Regions from separate parts of the Homo sapiens genome. Here region 1 is linked to region 2. Evidence: fine-mapped expression QTL. A gene starts in region 2. The other region holds a variant in brackets. All regions are shown on one strand. Distances are between the middles of the regions.

Region 1 (8,338 bases), 110 kb after region 2:
TGCCTCAGCCTCCTGACAAGCTGGGATTACAGGCAAGCACCACCACACCTGGCTAATTTTTTTTATTTTCAGTAGAGATGGGATTTCGCCATACTGGCCAGGCTGGTCTTGAATTCCTGATCTCAGGTGATCTGCCCACCTTGGCCTCCCAAAGTGCGGGGATTACAGGAGTGAGCCACTGTGCCTGGCTTTACACCCACTAAAATAGCTAAAATTAAAAATACTAATAACACCACCATATGTTGGCAAGTCCATGGAAAATTGAAACTCTCACTTATTGCTGGTGGGAGTGAAATAAGTTACAATCACTTTGGAAATCTGCTCAGCAGTTTCTTATAAATTTACATGTATGTCTCCCCAAGCCTTGACAATTCCAGGTTCAGGTACTTTCCCATGAAAAATGAAAATACAGGCTGGGCGCGGTGGCTCACGCCTGTAATCCCAGTGCTTCGGGAGGCCAAGGTGGGTAGATCACTGGAGGTCAAAAGTTCTAATCCAGCCTGGTCAACATGGTGAAACCTGATCTCTACTAAAAATACAAAAAGTTAGCTGGGCGTGGTGGCACGCGCCTATAGTCCCAACTACTCGGGAGGCTGAGGCAGGAGAATCGCTTGAACCCAGGAGGTGCAGGTTGCAGTGAGCTGAGATCACGCAATTGCATTCCAGCCTGGGTGACAGAGCGAGACTCTATCTCAAAAAAAAAAAAAAAAAAAACAAAGAAAAGAAAAATGAGAATATATGTTCACTAAAAGTATGTGGTTGTTTAGAGTAGCCTTATTCATAGTAGTCAAAAACTAAAAACAACCCAATATCCGTCAACAAGAGAATGCATAAAATGTTCCTATAATGGACTACCACTTATCAATAGAAAGAACAAAGTTCTAACACACACAATAACATGGGTGAGCCCCAAAACTTTTATTAAGTGAGAGTAATCAGACATAAAAGATATAATTTAATTTATATATAATTTAGGAACAGATAAAAACTAAACCTTGTCAGAAATCAGAAAGCTGCTGGGCGCAGTGGCTCACACCTGTAACCCCAGCACTTTGGAAGGCCAAGGCAGGTGGATCACCTGAGGTCAGGAGCTCGAGACTAGCCTGGCCAACATGGTGAAACCCTGTCCTACTAAAAATACAAAATTAGCTGGGCTTGGTGGCATGCGTCTGTAGTCCCAGCTATTCCGGGGCTGAGGCAGGAGAATCGCTTGAACCCAGGAGGCGGAGGTTGCAGTGAGCTGAGATTGCATCATTGCACTCCAGCTTGGGCGACAAGAGCGAAACTCCATCTCACACAAAAAAAAAAATGACAAAAAATCAGAAAGCTGATACCTGGGATGGGTAGAGGAATTGACTAGAAAGCAGACATGAGAGAATTTTCTTAGGTGATAAAAATGTTCTGTAGTTTGTTTTAGGTGTTGGTTGAATGTATATACAGCTGTCAATGTTCATTAAGTGGAATATCTAAATTCTTTGCATTCTATTGTAGGTAATTAATCTCAAAATATTTTAAAAATTGTATCAATAAAATATTTTTTAAATCACATTAATTTCACTTCAGTGGTATTCTTCCCCAAAATACATAACCCAAGTTATAAATAATGAAAAAAAAAATAAACAAACCCCAATTGAGGGACATTTTACAAACATGACCAGCACTCCTCAAAACTGTAAAGGTTAGGTTAAACAAGAAAGATGGAGATACAGTTACAGAGCAGAGGAAATTAAAGAAACAAATGCAATGTAGGATCCTGGATTAGGTCCTGAAATAGCAAAAGTACATTCACTTAAAAACTGGCGAAATCTAAATAACATCTGGAGTTTAGTTAATAATAATGTACCAGTGTTGGTTTCTTAGTTTTGACAAATATACTATGGTAACTTAAGATTTTAGCACTGGAGGAAAACTGGGTGAAGGGTATAGGAAAATTTTATATTATCTTCATGACTGTTCTATAAATCATAGATTATTCTAAAATTAAAAGGTTACTTAAAATCATTTCACAAAAGCACAAACATATACATTTTTCAGTAATACGAGTTGGGTGCAGTGGCTCATACCTGTAATAAGCACATTGGGAGGCTGAGGCAGGAGGCTCACTTGAGCCCAGGAGTTCGAGATTAGCCTCGGCAACACAGCAAGACTCTATCTCTACAATTTTTTTTTTAAAGTGGACATGGTGGTGTGTACCTGTAGTTCCAGCTACTCAGGAGGCTGAGGTAGGAGGATCCTTTGAGTCCAGGAGTTCAAGGTTACAGTGACCTATGATTTTGCCACTGCACTCCAGCCTGGGCAACGGAGCAAGACCCTGTCTCAAAAAAATTCCAGTAATAAAAACTAACAATGTAATTATAGAACCAGTTCACTCTGGTTATACTTTGTCAGTAGCAATTGTAACAAAATACTGAGTTTCTCAGTTGCAGTGGGCCCCCAGGTTGCAAGTCACACTTGAGCATGTCCAGATGAACCAATCATGCCTGATATGTGACCCAGAGCTGACCAGAATGGAAAAATTAACCACGTGCAGAACCTAAGTAACTTGAGTTGAGGAACAGGGACCCAATTAAGAAGTGAGGGGGTTCCCTGTTTTTGTTTTTTGTTTTTAGAGCTGGGGTCTCGCTATGCTGCCCAGGCTGGTCTTGAACTCCTGAGCTCAAGCAATCCACCCACCTCAGCAACCCAAAGTGCTGGGATTACAAGTATGAGCCACCGCACCTAGCTCCTGTTTTGCTGAAGTACAAATTTAAAACCCAATGACCTGGCACCTCCTCTTTGGGACCCAATCAGATCATGCCTAGTTACATTTTTCTATCTCCTTCATAGTTACTCTCTGTCTTTCAAATCTGCTCCCAGACTCCAGCTCAGGGTGACATATTTGAGCATTGCCTTCTAACTCCTTGCCCAGTTGACCTTACAATGAAGCTTTTTCTTTTCTAAAAAGCTGGTGCCATAGTATTGGTTTCTATGCATGTCAGACAGAATGCTCATTGCTTGGTAACAAAATAAGATGTGCAAGGCTTCTATAAAGTTAATTACAGCTGGGCATGGTGACTCATTCCTACAATCCAGCACTATGCCCCCTTTATAATTTAGGATAGGTTTACAAGGCCCTTCAAGAATATAGAAATAAAGTATTGCCTCCTCCTGGAAGACTTAGTGTTACTAAAAACTTAAAACTAAAAACCCTACTGCTATTAAACTTCAAGGGAATCACTAGCTGGATATATGTCCAGGATTAAGCCTGTTTCTTATAAGTCCTCACAAGCCTAAGAGGAGGATACCAGACTTATGTTTATAACCCCCTAAAAGACTGAAAGCTATTATTTCACAAATGCATAAATAGATAATGTGATGCTGTGGGTGGGCATTGGAGCATTAATTTTTCTCTTCCTTCTAATTCCTTTTCTTGTTTAACCTTCTAGTAAAGTTTATACTTTCTAGATTACACATGAAGATGATGCTGGCACAAGGCTTCCAACCGCATCCCATCTTTTGACCCTGAAAACAAAAACACCTTCCCGTTGGGCCCTTTGGGTAAGGTATCCAGAGATTTTTACTCCTCCAATGCTAGGCAGGGCCTATACCCATAAAATGAGCAAGAAGCAGTTACAGAAGATGGGCCTCTGCCCTTCCACAGACCCTTTAAGATTAAGGAAGAGTAATCTCTGAGGTGGGGAATGAGGTTAGGAAGCCAGCAGGACTTGTTTTCTGGTCACAACCCTGCTGACCAAAACAGGATCTTGTCCAGACAGAATAAAGTGAAGAAACCCATAGGAACCAGCAGATGGTGACAAAAGTGATCCCTAGCTGCCTTCATTGCTCATTAATACAAGACACTATCACCAGTGTCATGGCAGTGACCCAGAAGTTATGACCACTTTCCATGGCAATGACTCAGATATTACTGCCCCTTTCCTAGAAAGTTCTAAGTAATCCATTCCTCCATTTGCATTGATCCACTCCTTAATTTGCATGTAATTGAATGTGGGTTTACTGAGTATAATCACAGTTGATAAGAGCCCATAGGTTGCTGTCTCTGGATGTGCTGCCTATGAATTAGCCCTGATCTGCAAAGAGCAGTAATGTTCAACAAAAGATTGCTGTCCAACACCACCAGCTTGCCCTTGAATTCTTTCCTGGCTTTCTCCTAGGCTAAACCCCAGTTTTGAGGCGGCTGCCCTGCAACAAAAACACACCTTAAAAATAGTGCAAAGAGGCCAGGTACAGTGGCTCACGCCTATAATCCCAGCACTTTGGAAGGCCAAGGTGGGCGGATCACTTGAGGCCAGGAGTTCAAGACCAGGCTGGCCAACATGGCGAAACCCTGTCTCCACTAAAAATACAAAAATTAGCCGGGCATGGTGGCGGGCGCCTGTAGTCCCAGCAACTTGGGAGGCTGAGGCAGGAGAATGGCGTGAACCCAGGAGGCGAAGCTTGCAGCAAGCCGAGATCACGCCACTGCACTCCAGCCTGGGCAACAGTGCGAGACTGTCTCAAAAAAAAAAAAAAAAAAAACAAACTACAGTGAAATACCAAGAGATACAAGCCATGGGCTGGGAAAAAATATTTGCAAAGTACATATCTGATAAAGGATTATTGCTCGCTCTCTCTCTCTATATATATATATAATGTGTGTGTGTGTGTGTGTGT[A/G]TATATATACATGTGTGTATAAAATATATATTTTAAACTTGTTATATATAAGTTCTTTAAAACTTACATTCTTTAAAACTCAGCAATAAGAAAATCAATAACCTAATTAAAAATGAATGAAAGATCGAACAGACACCTCATCGAAGAAGATAGATAGCAAATAAGCACATGAAAAGGTGTTCAACATCACATGTTACTAGGGAATTGCAAATTAAAATGAGATACCACTACACATTTGTTAGAATGGTGAAACTCCAAAACACTGACAACAACAAATGCTGGTGAGAATGGGGAACAACAGGAACTCTCATGCATTGCGGGTGGAAATGCAGAGTGATATACTTTGGAAGAAAAATTGGCACTTTCTTATTAAACTACACACACTCATACCATAAGATCCCATAATTGTGTTCGCTGGTATTCATGCAAATAAGTTGAAAATTTATGTTTATACAAAAACCTCCACACATATGTTTATAGCAACTTTATTCATAATTGCCAAAACTTGGAAAAAACCAAAATGTCCTTCCATAGGTGAATGGATAAATAAACTATGGTATACAATGGAACATTATTCCGTGCTAAAAAGAAATAGGCTAGGCTATAGTTTCAATATTTGTCCCTCCAAAACTCATGTTGAAACTTAATCCACACTTAATCCACAATGTGGCAGTATTCAGAAGGTGGGGCCTTTAAGAAGTGATTGGGTCATAAATAGATTAATCCATTAATGGCTTAATGGATTAATAGATTAATGGGTTATCACAGGAGTGGGACTAGTGGCTTTCTAAGAAGACAAGAGACTTGAACTAGCACACTCAGCCCCTTCACCATGTGATGCCCTATGCCACCCCAGGACTTTGCAGAAATCCTACCAGAAAGAAGGCTTTCACCAGATGTGCCCCTCCTTGACCTTAGACTTCCGAACTCCAGACTGTAAGAAATACATTTCGTTTTTAATAAATTACCCAGTTTCAGGTATTCTGGTATGAGCAACAGAAAACAGACTAAGACAGGCCATCGAGCCATGAAAATACATGGAGAAAGCTTAAATGCACATTGCTAAGTGAAAGAAGCCAATCTGAAAAGACTACATATTGTGTGATTCCAACTATATGACAAATGTGCCTATTCTGGAAAAGGCAAAAACTTTGGAAACAGTAAAAGGATCAGGGGTTGCCAGGGGTTAGAGCAGAGGGAGGGATAAATCAGAGAAGCACAGAGGACTTTTAGGATAATGAAACCATTCTGTATGATACTGTAATGACATGATTGCACATTTGTCAAAACCCATAGACTACATAATACCAAAAGTGAACATTATTGTAAACTATGAATTTTGGATTATTATGTGTCAATGTGGGTTCATCAATAGTAGCATATGCACCTCTCTGGTGTAGGATGTGGATAGTTGGGGAGGCTGTGCCTGTGTGGGGGAAAGAATATAGTGGGACTCTGTACTTTCTGCTCAGTTTTGCTATGAATCTACAATGGCTTGAAGAAAATTAGGTAGGAAGACTATAGATACTGTTACACATCCATTAGGTTGTCAGAAATTTAGAAGCCTGAAAATGCCAAGATTGTTGAAGATATGAAGTAATCTGTGCACTTATATATATGTTGGGGGAACATATATTGACACAGCTACTTTGGAAAACAATTTGGAATTATTTAATAAGGTTGAATATGCACTTACCCTATAATGCAGCAATTCTACTCTTAGGTATAGCCTCTATAAAGATTTCATAGAGAAACAGCTGAAAACCACTCCAAACTTAATGTAAACCACAGAAAATTTGATATTTTCACACAATGGAATACCAGATAACAGTAAAAGCAATGAACTATGGCTACATACATCAACTGGAGGAATTTCAGAAATGCAATACTGCACAAAAAAGGAAAGATTAGATATGGAGTCTAAAACACATGAAATTTAATAATATATTATTCTATAACATTTATGGCAAAACTATAAGGAAAAGTAAGGAAATGATTAGCTGTAATTACAGGATAGTGGTTCCTTTAGTGGAGGGTGGGAGTTGGAGGTGTGACAGATATATAAGACTCAGAATATCTCAAAGGTACTGGTAACATTCTATTTTTATTCTGGGTAGTGAGTATAAAAAATCCATTTATTATTTAAATTTCATGTGTATGTGTATATGTATTCTTCTGTATGTATGTCATATTTCACAATAAAAGTTTTTGTTAGAAATCATTCTCTAGTTTTTTATTATATTAAACCTATTTTTATTATCATTTTATCCTCCTGCCCCATAGAGGTCTGCCTGTAGTAGAAGAGGAAGAAGCCAATACAGAGGCAGAAATTGAGATAAGAAAAACAGGGACAATACAAAAGAGTTCTTTTGTACTGAAATTGGCTGAGGTTAGCACTACCTTAAACTTTTTATACTATTTTTTTTCTTATTCTAGTTTGAATGAGGTTCCTGTCACTGAATATCAAGGATCCTGAATAACAGCCTTAAAAAAGAAGGAAACTTTGTCATTTGTGACAACCAGGGTGAACCTGGAGGACATTATATTAAGTGAAAGAAACCAGGCACAGAAAGACAAATACCCATGATTTCACTCAAATGTGGAATCTAAAAAAGTTGAACTCGTAGAAGCAGACAGTAGAATGGTGGGCTGGGATGGCAGGATACCAGGGGCTGGGGGTGGCAGGGTGACAGAGGAGATGTTGGTCAAAGGATACAAAATTTCAGTTAGATAAGAGGAATAGATTCAAGGAATCTATTGTACAACACGGTGATTATAGTTAATAACAATGTATTGTATTGTTGAAAATCACTAAGAGAGTAGATTTTAAGCGTTCTCACCACAAAAAATGACAAGTATGTGAGATAACACACGTGTTAACTAACATTATTTAGCCATTCCACAAAGTACACATATTTCAAAACATCATGTTGTACATGATAAATATATACAATTTTTGTCAATTAAAAAATAAATAAAAGAATCCTGAATTATCTTTTGTGTTTACTTGTGCATTATTTCTCTCTCCCACTACACTAAAAATTTCATAAAAGCAGGGGCTATTATCTCCCTTGGTCATCTCCAAATTCCCAGTGACCTAATACAATGCCTGGCATATAAGCACTTCTTACATATTTGTTGAATGAATAATAAACAACCTAATCAAAATTGCACTCATGACACTTTTGTAATTGTCTATTAGTGTCTATACATCGTTAAGTATGATGGTATTATTATATCATTAGTACCTAGCAAAATGCCTAGTACGTGATGGGTACTGAATAAATTAATATTAAATGCATACATAGAAACAATTTTTCTCTGCAATGCAATCTCTATTTCAAACTGTCCTTCATTCGAAAGTCAGAGGAAATAACCTTTAGAATCAATTTGATGTTTACATCCACATGCTTAAAATCTTCCAGTAAAAATAATAGTAGAATTGTACGGTGCTCACTACAGGATCAGGCACTATTCTGAGTGCTTTTTCACATAATTCCTTTAATCCCACAACAACTCTACGGAGGTGAAATTATCCTTATTTTGCAGATGAGGAAACTGAGACACAGAGAAGTTAAGTAACTTGCCTAACATTATACAGCTATTGGTGGTACAGTCAGAATTGAAATCTGTAATCTGGCTCTACAGACAATGCTCTTGACCATATTACTATAATCCTTCAGTG
Region 2 (8,338 bases):
CCTGTAACCCTAGCTACTCAAGAGGCTGAGGCAGGAGTATCCCTTGAGCCCAGGAGTTTGAGACTAGCAACATAATGAGACCCTGTCTCTATTTTTTAAATTTAAAAAATATAAAGGGCAGGCTCAGGGGCTTACGCCTGTAATCCCAGCACTCTGGAAGGCCAAGGTGGGCAGATCACCTGAAGTCAGGAGTTTGAGACCAGCCTGGTCAACATGGCAAAACTCCATCTCTACCAAAAGTACAAAAATCAGTTGGCCTTGGTGGCGCATGCCTGTAGTACCAACTACTCCAGAGGCTGAGGCAGGAGAATCGCTTGAACCCAAGAGGCAGAGCCAAGATGACACCACTGCACTCTAGCTGGGCAACAAGGTGAGACTTGGTCTCAAAAAAGAGAAAACAAAAAAACCCAAACATATATATACAGAGAGAGACCAGCCTGGGTAACACAGGGAGGCCCAGTCACAAAACAAAAAAACAAACAAAAAAAAACCTGATCTACAATATAGAAGCAAAAATGGCACTAGGAATATGCAGAGTTCTTGTAAGCAGTGCAACTATACCTGCCTCAAATACATTAGTTCATTTAAAAGAAATCTATTCATTCGTTCAACCAAATTACTGAATGCCTAACATGTGCCAGGCACTGTTATAAGTACTTAGGAAACACCAATTAAAAAAAAAAATCCCCTTTCCTCCTTTCTACCTAGTGGGAGAAGACAGGTAATAGACAACGCAACTTTCTAACACATGTTGGAATGTAATAAATGGTATTGGGGGGGAAAACAACAGGGTGAGAGGGACTTCCAGGTTATTAGGGCAGGTTGCACTTTCAAACAGGGTGGTCAGAGAAGGTTTAAGGGGGCAGTGAGAAAAGACTTGAAGGAGGTAAGGGAGTCAGTCAGCCATGAAATCTGGGGAAGAGTATTCCAGAATAAGGAGGACAAAGGTCCTAGAATAGCAATGAGGACAGGGAAGCTGGAGGGAAGCCAACAAAGGGGTTAGCTGTAGGTGTCAAGGGACATGCGTGGAAACAAGGGGTACAGATTATGTAGGGTTTATGCGACACTATAAGGAATCTGATTTTTACTTTGAATGAAACAAGGATCCACACAGAGGGTTGGGGAGACTGTCATGCTCAGTTTTACCAAAATAACTGTGGCTGTTGTATTGAGGACAGGCCTTAGCGAGGACAAGGGTGAAAGCAGGGATAACTGTTAGGAGGCTACAAAAGAAACCATGGAAAGAAATATACACTTCCTACAAACTTGGATCATAATGGTGCAGGGATTTACTTTAAGGCAAAAATAAATAAAAACAAATTTGTCAGATGTTAATAGGAAATAACTGTAACTGGCTCTTGTCATTATATGTACATTGTACATATAAAGCAGCAAACAATGACATCTTTTAACTACTCACCTCAAGAGAACATGTTCCTTTACAATCAGCTATTCACTGTTAATTACATATAATTTGTTGAAAAAGTTACTTTTATCAACTGAGAATACTATAAATCTGCTGTGTGAGGTAGCTAACGCCTGTAATCCCAGTCTTTGGGAGGCTGAGGGAGGAGGATCACCTGAAGCCAGGAGTTTGAGGCTGCCAAGTGAGCAATCCAGTCTAACCTGGATGACAGAGGGAGATTCTCAACTCAAATAAATGAATAAATAACCTTGGATTGCTGTTTCTCAGATCATCTAAAATAACCATTCCTAAGACAGATCTTATTTCTTTGGGGGTGGGGGACAATACTTTTTCTCCAAAAGTTTCTTTTTATGCTCCCATGTTTTAAAGTAATTTTCTTCTGATTGATACTGAATTTGTATATTAGTCTGCGTCATTCACTTCAGGAAACTGCAACCATAAAAAACTCCCACTGTCAAAAATATAACATTTCCAAAAAAAGTTCCTTCATGACACCAAAAACCCCTCATCCCTCATCATCACCTAGTTCTTCTGGAAAAGGCAAACACAGTTTCCATAAATTCTAGTACCTTTAATAGTACAATTATCATAAGGATAGGAGAAAGAGAACAAGTCAAAGATATTCAATTAAGAAAGGGGATAGGAGGCAGGAGAATTTGCTTGAGGCCAGGAGTTCAAGACCAGCCTAGGCAACATAGGAGTCCCTGTCTCTATTTTTTTAAAAATAGAAGGGGGTGAGGGTAGGGAGCATAAGAGATTTTAAAATAAAAACTTCATGCCAGATGCGGTGGCTCATGCCTGTAATCCTAGCACTTTGGGAGACTGAGGTGGGTGGACTGCTTGAGGTCAGGAGTTCAAGACCAGCCTGACCAACATGGTGAAACCCCGTCTTTACTAAAAATACAAAAATTAGCTAGGTGTGGTGGCACGCGCCTGTAATCCCAGCTACTCAGGAGGCTGAGGCAGGAGAATCGCTAGAACCCGGGAGGTGGAGGTTGCAGTAAGCAGTGAGATTGTGCCACTGCACTCCAGCCGGGGTGACAGAGCGAGACTCCATCTCATTAAAAAAAAAAAGTTAAATAAGCACTTTTGTTGTATAGTAAACATAGGAGGGAAAGACAGTGAAGGATAAACATAGCTTGCTTGCTTCACTCAAAGGTACTTGTAAAGACACCCAGATTCAGCTTTGATTTTTAAGAGACTACCCTGTGACAACTTACTTTGGAAAAAATATTTGTGTAAATACAGAAAATACTAAATTCAACTTCATTAATTAATTCAGCATTTAGGTGCTTATGTGCCAGAAACTGAGCGAGGGGAGAGTCCCTGTTCTCAAGGGCTTTTACTCGTAATTTATCTCCCAGTTACTGAGTCCCTACTGAGGCAGATGCGAGGGATACAACAGCAAACCGGAAACACAGATTCTCTACCTTCACGCAGCTTGCACTGAAGGAGGCGATTACAAGGATGAGACACACATCTAACAAAGATACAACACTAAAGTGTTATAGATATTGCTTATGGAAGTGTAGAGGTTTCAGTGGGGACACAAGGGATTCGGGCTGGGAAGGAAGGGAATGCTGGGACTTCAGACATGAAAGCTGAGTTCTCAAAGAGGATTAGATGTCCACCTGGCTGACCCGGGCGAAGGGCTCCAAGCAGAGAGGAACTGGAGCAAAACAAAGCTGTGAACAGCCTGGTGTATTTGGTAGGCCTGGAATATAGAACGTAAGAGGGAGAAGTCATGGAGGCTTCTGTAATACCACAATCAAGACTGGACCTTACTGGTATATATGAAATGCCCCCAGAAGAATTTTATTCAGAAAACGAGCATATATATGATCAGGTTTTTCTGGTGTGATGAGACATTGGTTTACACAGGAATGAGAAAAGAAAACACTAGATAATGATGTCATCACATGAAACAACAAAGGAGCCTACCCAGTCAGAAAACTAAACTCTTCAGGAAGAAATTAAGCACTACTACTATTGAAGCCCTCTGGAAAAGGGTGTATTCAATATCATCTAAAATGGAAAAAGTACAGGAAAGGTTTTCACACATCTATTGTGGATTATAACATCCACATACCTATTTTGAGTTTAAGAGGTCTTCACTCGAATTCTGCAACACATCTGGGACTACTGATTATTGTACAAAAAGCAGTACAACGTATTTAGGAGAGTCTTTGATACAAAGGGAGAACACGAGTAACCGAAGGAATTTCCCAAGCCAGGTTTAAAGGTTTCCAAAGTTCAAGCTAATCAAGTTTTCTTAAGTCAGCACGTTTAAAAGGTGTGTCATATGGGTGGAGCAAAAAGAGGAGGGATTAAAATTTATATACATATATATATATATATATATACACATATATATATATATACACACACACACAAGTAACTCGATGTCGCTAGGGTTAAAATCACCACTTGGAGATCCGTCTCCCAAGCAGAGGGAAAACCTGCCAGATCCAATTAACAAAAAGACGAGGGAGGTGGGTAAGAGGACGACCACACATGAAAACATAAATGGGGCGGGGGGGTGGTGCTTGGCAACCACCTATCCAGAACCCATAATCCAGTTGGCGGTGCGATGAGGAAATCATACGATTCAGACATAAAGACAGGAAAATGTCACTCCCAAACTCCACAAGCGAACCACCAGACACTGGCCAAGGGGATGTGATCACATACTCTGATCCCAGAACTCAAGGGCAGAGGGTATCATCCCCACACGGTGCCCGAGGGCAGGCGAAGAATCAACCTTACTCTGAGATCAGAGAGCAAATGCCCTCAGATCCAGCCCTAAGGGGTCAATGCCGCCCAGGCCAGGCCTTGCCGAAGCCAGGGGCAGAGACGGCCCCGAAGCCCCCTCAATCTCCGCCAGAGCTGCCTCTACTCGCTCCCCCCAACACACACCCTCCCCTACCTGATATGGCGGCGGCGGCTCCTGATCCGGCTCCGTCCCCTCGCCAAAGCTAGCCCGGTCGGACTGAGACTCGTGAAGCAGGGAGATGTCATCCGAGGTGGGGGATTTGAGGCAGTTCCCCATCTTCCGGAGCTGGGGTGCGTGATCTGGGGGAGGAGAAAGCAGCGGTGGGGTCGTTCGCACACTCCGCGGTCCGCCTCGGTTGGCGAGGTGGGGTCGGGCGACAGGCCGGGGATCAGGCGGAGGCGACTCCACCGCCCCACGGTGCCGCCGAGGGGCCGCTCATGCCAGCCCCCGGGGTTGGGGGATCAAGGCTGGGCCGCGGGCTCCGCTGGGGTCGCGGCGTTCGCCTCCTGCGAGGCAGCGATGGGGGGGGGGGGGCGGGGAGACGAAGCACTTCCCCACCCCGCCCCCCCGCGGGGCGGCGGCGGCCACGGAGCTGCTGGGCCTAATCCAGGTCAGCGGGGGGGGGCGCGGCCGTCGCGGCTGCCTCAGCTGCTGCCTCAGCTGCTGCTGCCCCCGCCGACGCCGGAGCCACGGCCGCGGGCCTCATCCTACTCCGCCTCAGCGAGACGGCGGCAGCCAGAACGAGGCCGGCTCGGGCACTGCGTCATCGCGCCGTGCGTGCTCTGGTCCCGCCCCCGGCGCCAGGAGGCGAGGGCGGCTCCGGCGGCGCCCATCCCCCTCTCCACTAGCAGCTGTTCTCGGTGCTGCGTCAATTTTTGCTTCTCTCTGACTGCTTGGCTCCGTACCTGGCTCCGAAACCAATCTCCCGTCTCCCGCGCCTCCCCACATTCATTGCTCCTGCCCCGTCTAGGGCTCAGTTCTTACCTGTGCACTGCCTGACAGTCTTCTCACCACCCTCCGCCAAGCGGTCTATTTATATAAACCCATATCGGAATGGATCAGTCCCATGATTAAAATGTTAAAAGCTTCCCCTTTATCCCTTCACAATAAAGTCCTAGCTCGTTACTGAACCATCCCTGCCTGTCCAATCACGTCCTTATCCTTCCACATCACAGCCAGAGAGATTATTCTTCCAGTTGTATATCAGATTGTTCATTTCTTTCCAGTCCCAGCACCAAAGTCCAAGCCACCATCATCTCTCACCTTGGCTTCTGCAATAGACTCTCAGCTGTTCCTGAGTTCATCATTGCCCACATCCAATTCACTGTTGGCACAGTTGACAGAGTTATCTTTTTAAAATTTAAATCGGATCATGTCATTCTCCTGTTAAAACCTTCAGTGTCTCCTCAAGGCTGTCCTTAAGACAATCCTTAAATGGTTTACAAATCTGACTCCCTTTCAATCTCATTAGCAGCATTGTCACCTCCTTCACAAATTCTAAACTAGACTCTCTAAAATGCTTTTCGTTATCTGGAATACTATTGCCTCTGCCTGGGGCCTTTGTCCATATTGTTTCTCTCACAGAAACCCACTTCCCTCCACTCCCAACCTTTCTGCTTCTCATCAGGCTAATCATTATTCTCAGGAATCCTTCTGGATGCAACTTCATTTCCCCTGGGGAGACTCTCCTGACCCTCCAGTCTGGGTTAGTCGCATCCTGTGTGCTCTCAGACCCTGAGCTTTTCTCTGTCACAGCCTGATCAAGCTGAATCATCTGTCCCTCTGTGCAAGGCTGGCACACTGCCCAAGGTAGAGTATGCTCTCTCCTTGGTTGAATGAGCAGCTCAAACAACATATGCAAAAGAAGGAAGCAAGAAGGATGACAGTGCTCCTGATAGACGTTCATTCAACAGGTGGATCTTGACTGCCTTTCGTTTCATTCACCATTTACTGAAGTTGTGTGTGCGTGTGTATACCAGACCCCACGCTAAGGACTGGGGAAAAGGATGATCATACCTGGCTTGTTCCTGATAGAGCCCAGAGACCACCTGGGAAGACAAGTAATCAGGTGAGTCCTAAGCCCACACCCTGCCACGGACCCCAAGGTTTTTAGAGGAACTGAAAGACAGCAATTAGTTCATTTGAGTGAGGAACAGAAAGGATTCTTAGAGGTAGGGCTATATTAAACTCGAATGGGTCTGAACACTCTTACTCTGCAGTCCCTATTCTACGAAGTCACTATCTTATTTAAATGCACTCAAATTCCACATTAAATATCACCTTTTTGATATAAAATTTTTGAAAAGACTCATAATTTTGGGCCAGGCGTGGTGGCTTACGTCTGTAATCCCAGCAATTTGGGAGGTCAAGGCGGGTGGATCACTTGAGGTCAGGGATTCGAGAGTAGCCTGGCCAACATGGTGAAACCCCATCTCTACTAAAAATACAAAAACTAGCCAGGTGTGCTGGTGCACGCCTGTAGTCCCAGCTACTCGGGAGGGTGAGGCAGGAAAACCGCTTGAACCTGGGAGGTGGAAGTTGCAGCGCAGTGAGCCCAGATTGTGCCACTGCACTCTAGCGTGGGCGAGGGAGTGAGTAAGACTCAGTCTCAAAAAAAAAAGGAAGGAGAAAGAGAGAGAGAGAGAAGGGAGGCAGGAAGGAAGGAAAGAAGGAAGGGAGAGAAAGAGAAAGAGAAAAGAGAAAGAAAAGAAAGAAAGAAAGAAAAGAAAGAAAGAAAGAAAGAAAGAAAAAGAAAAAGAAAGGAAAGAAGGAAAGAAAGAACAAACTGACTCACAATTTTGGTTTTGGAATTGTTGAGCTTCCAAGAACTCATTTAATTTATGATTGGCTAAATTTACCAGAAATCAGAGGTACCCTGGAATTTTTACAAAGTGAGAAAATTTACCCCACAAATTATTGTCAAACCTAAAGAAATTTTTATTAATAATAATTTATACAATTATTTGACATAATATTTACACAGTGCTAGAATTTGTAGACATTGTTTGTTTGTTTTGGAGACAGGGTCTCACTCTGTCACCCAGGCTGGCTTGATCGAGGCTCACTGCAGCTTCAACCTCCTGGGCTCAGGTGATCCTCCTGCTTCAGGCCTCTCCAGTAACTAGAACTACAGATGCACACCACCATGCCTTGCATTTGTTTTTGTTTTTGGTAGAGACGAAGTCTTGCCATGTTGCCCAGGCTGGTCTCAAACTCCTGGGCGCAAGCGATCCTCCCGCCTCAGCCTCCCAAAGTGCTGGAATTACAGGTGTGAGCCACTGTATGCCTGGCCAGACATAGATTTATTTAGTTAGTTTTAATTTTTTTTAATTTTTATTTTTTGAGACAGAGTTTTGCTTGTGTTGCCCAGGCTAGAGTGCAATGGTGCGATCTTGGCTTACCGCAACCTCTACTTCCCCGGTTCAAGCAATTCTCCTGCCTCAGCCTCCTGAATAGCTGGGATTACAGGCGCGCACCACCACGCCCAACTAATTTTTTGTATTTTTAGTAAAGACGGGGTTTCACTATGTTGGCCAGGCTGGTCTCGAACTCCTGACCTCAGGTGATCCACCCACCTTGGCCTCTCAAAGTGCTGGGATTATAGGCGTGAGCCAGCTCGCCAGGCCAGATTTATTTTTTTAAGTTTTGTTTTTCATTCTTTTTTTCCACAGGTGGGTAACACTGACACAAGCCCTTGAAAAGTTCTATAGTGCCTTGTGAAAATAAGTTATATTGTTAAGTTTAAAACTAGCTTGGGCTGGGTGCAGTGGCTTACGCCTGTAATCTCAGCACTTTGGGAGGCCGAGGCGGGTGGATCACGAGGTCAGGAGTTCAAAACCAGCCTGGCCAATGTGGCGAAACCCCATCTCTACTAAAAATACAAAAATTAGCCGGGCATGGTGGCATGCACCTGTAATCCCAGCTCCTCAGGAGGCTGAGGCAGGAGAATCACTTGAACCTGAGAGGCGGAGGTTGCAGTGAGCCGAGATCACGCCATTGCACTCCAGCCTGGATAACAGAGTGAGACTCCGTCTCAGTAAACAAACAAACAAACAAGGCTAGTTGTTCACCAGAAGATGGGAGGAGCATTTGAAGCCCATTAATGGCTTGGACATGGTCCCTGCCTTCAAATAGCTCAA

Evidence for each region. PIP is the estimated chance that this variant, and not a neighbour inherited with it, causes the effect. A credible set is the group of variants that fine-mapping cannot tell apart.
Region 1: its variant is the best candidate, but not a certain one, in a credible set for the expression of RNF11 in whole blood (INTERVAL, PIP 0.71).

What each region holds. Positions count from the first base shown.
Region 1 is chr1:51,120,262-51,128,599 of GRCh38, reverse strand. All of the region lies in intron 3 of C1orf185 (chromosome 1 open reading frame 185), which reads right to left. Among named protein-coding and RNA genes, the nearest start is that of C1orf185, 22 kb to the right of the region's middle. The variant A/G (reference allele first, on the strand shown) is at 4,654.
Region 2 is chr1:51,232,894-51,241,231 of GRCh38, reverse strand. It overlaps RNF11 (ring finger protein 11), which reads right to left and starts at 4,959. Exons shown (of 3, transcript NM_014372.5): 1 at 4,353-4,959. The coding sequence starts at 4,475. LINC01562 (long intergenic non-protein coding RNA 1562) reads left to right here and starts at 6,136. Exons shown (of 2, transcript NR_147076.1): 1 at 6,136-6,267. RefSeq lists a silencer at 4,695-5,174.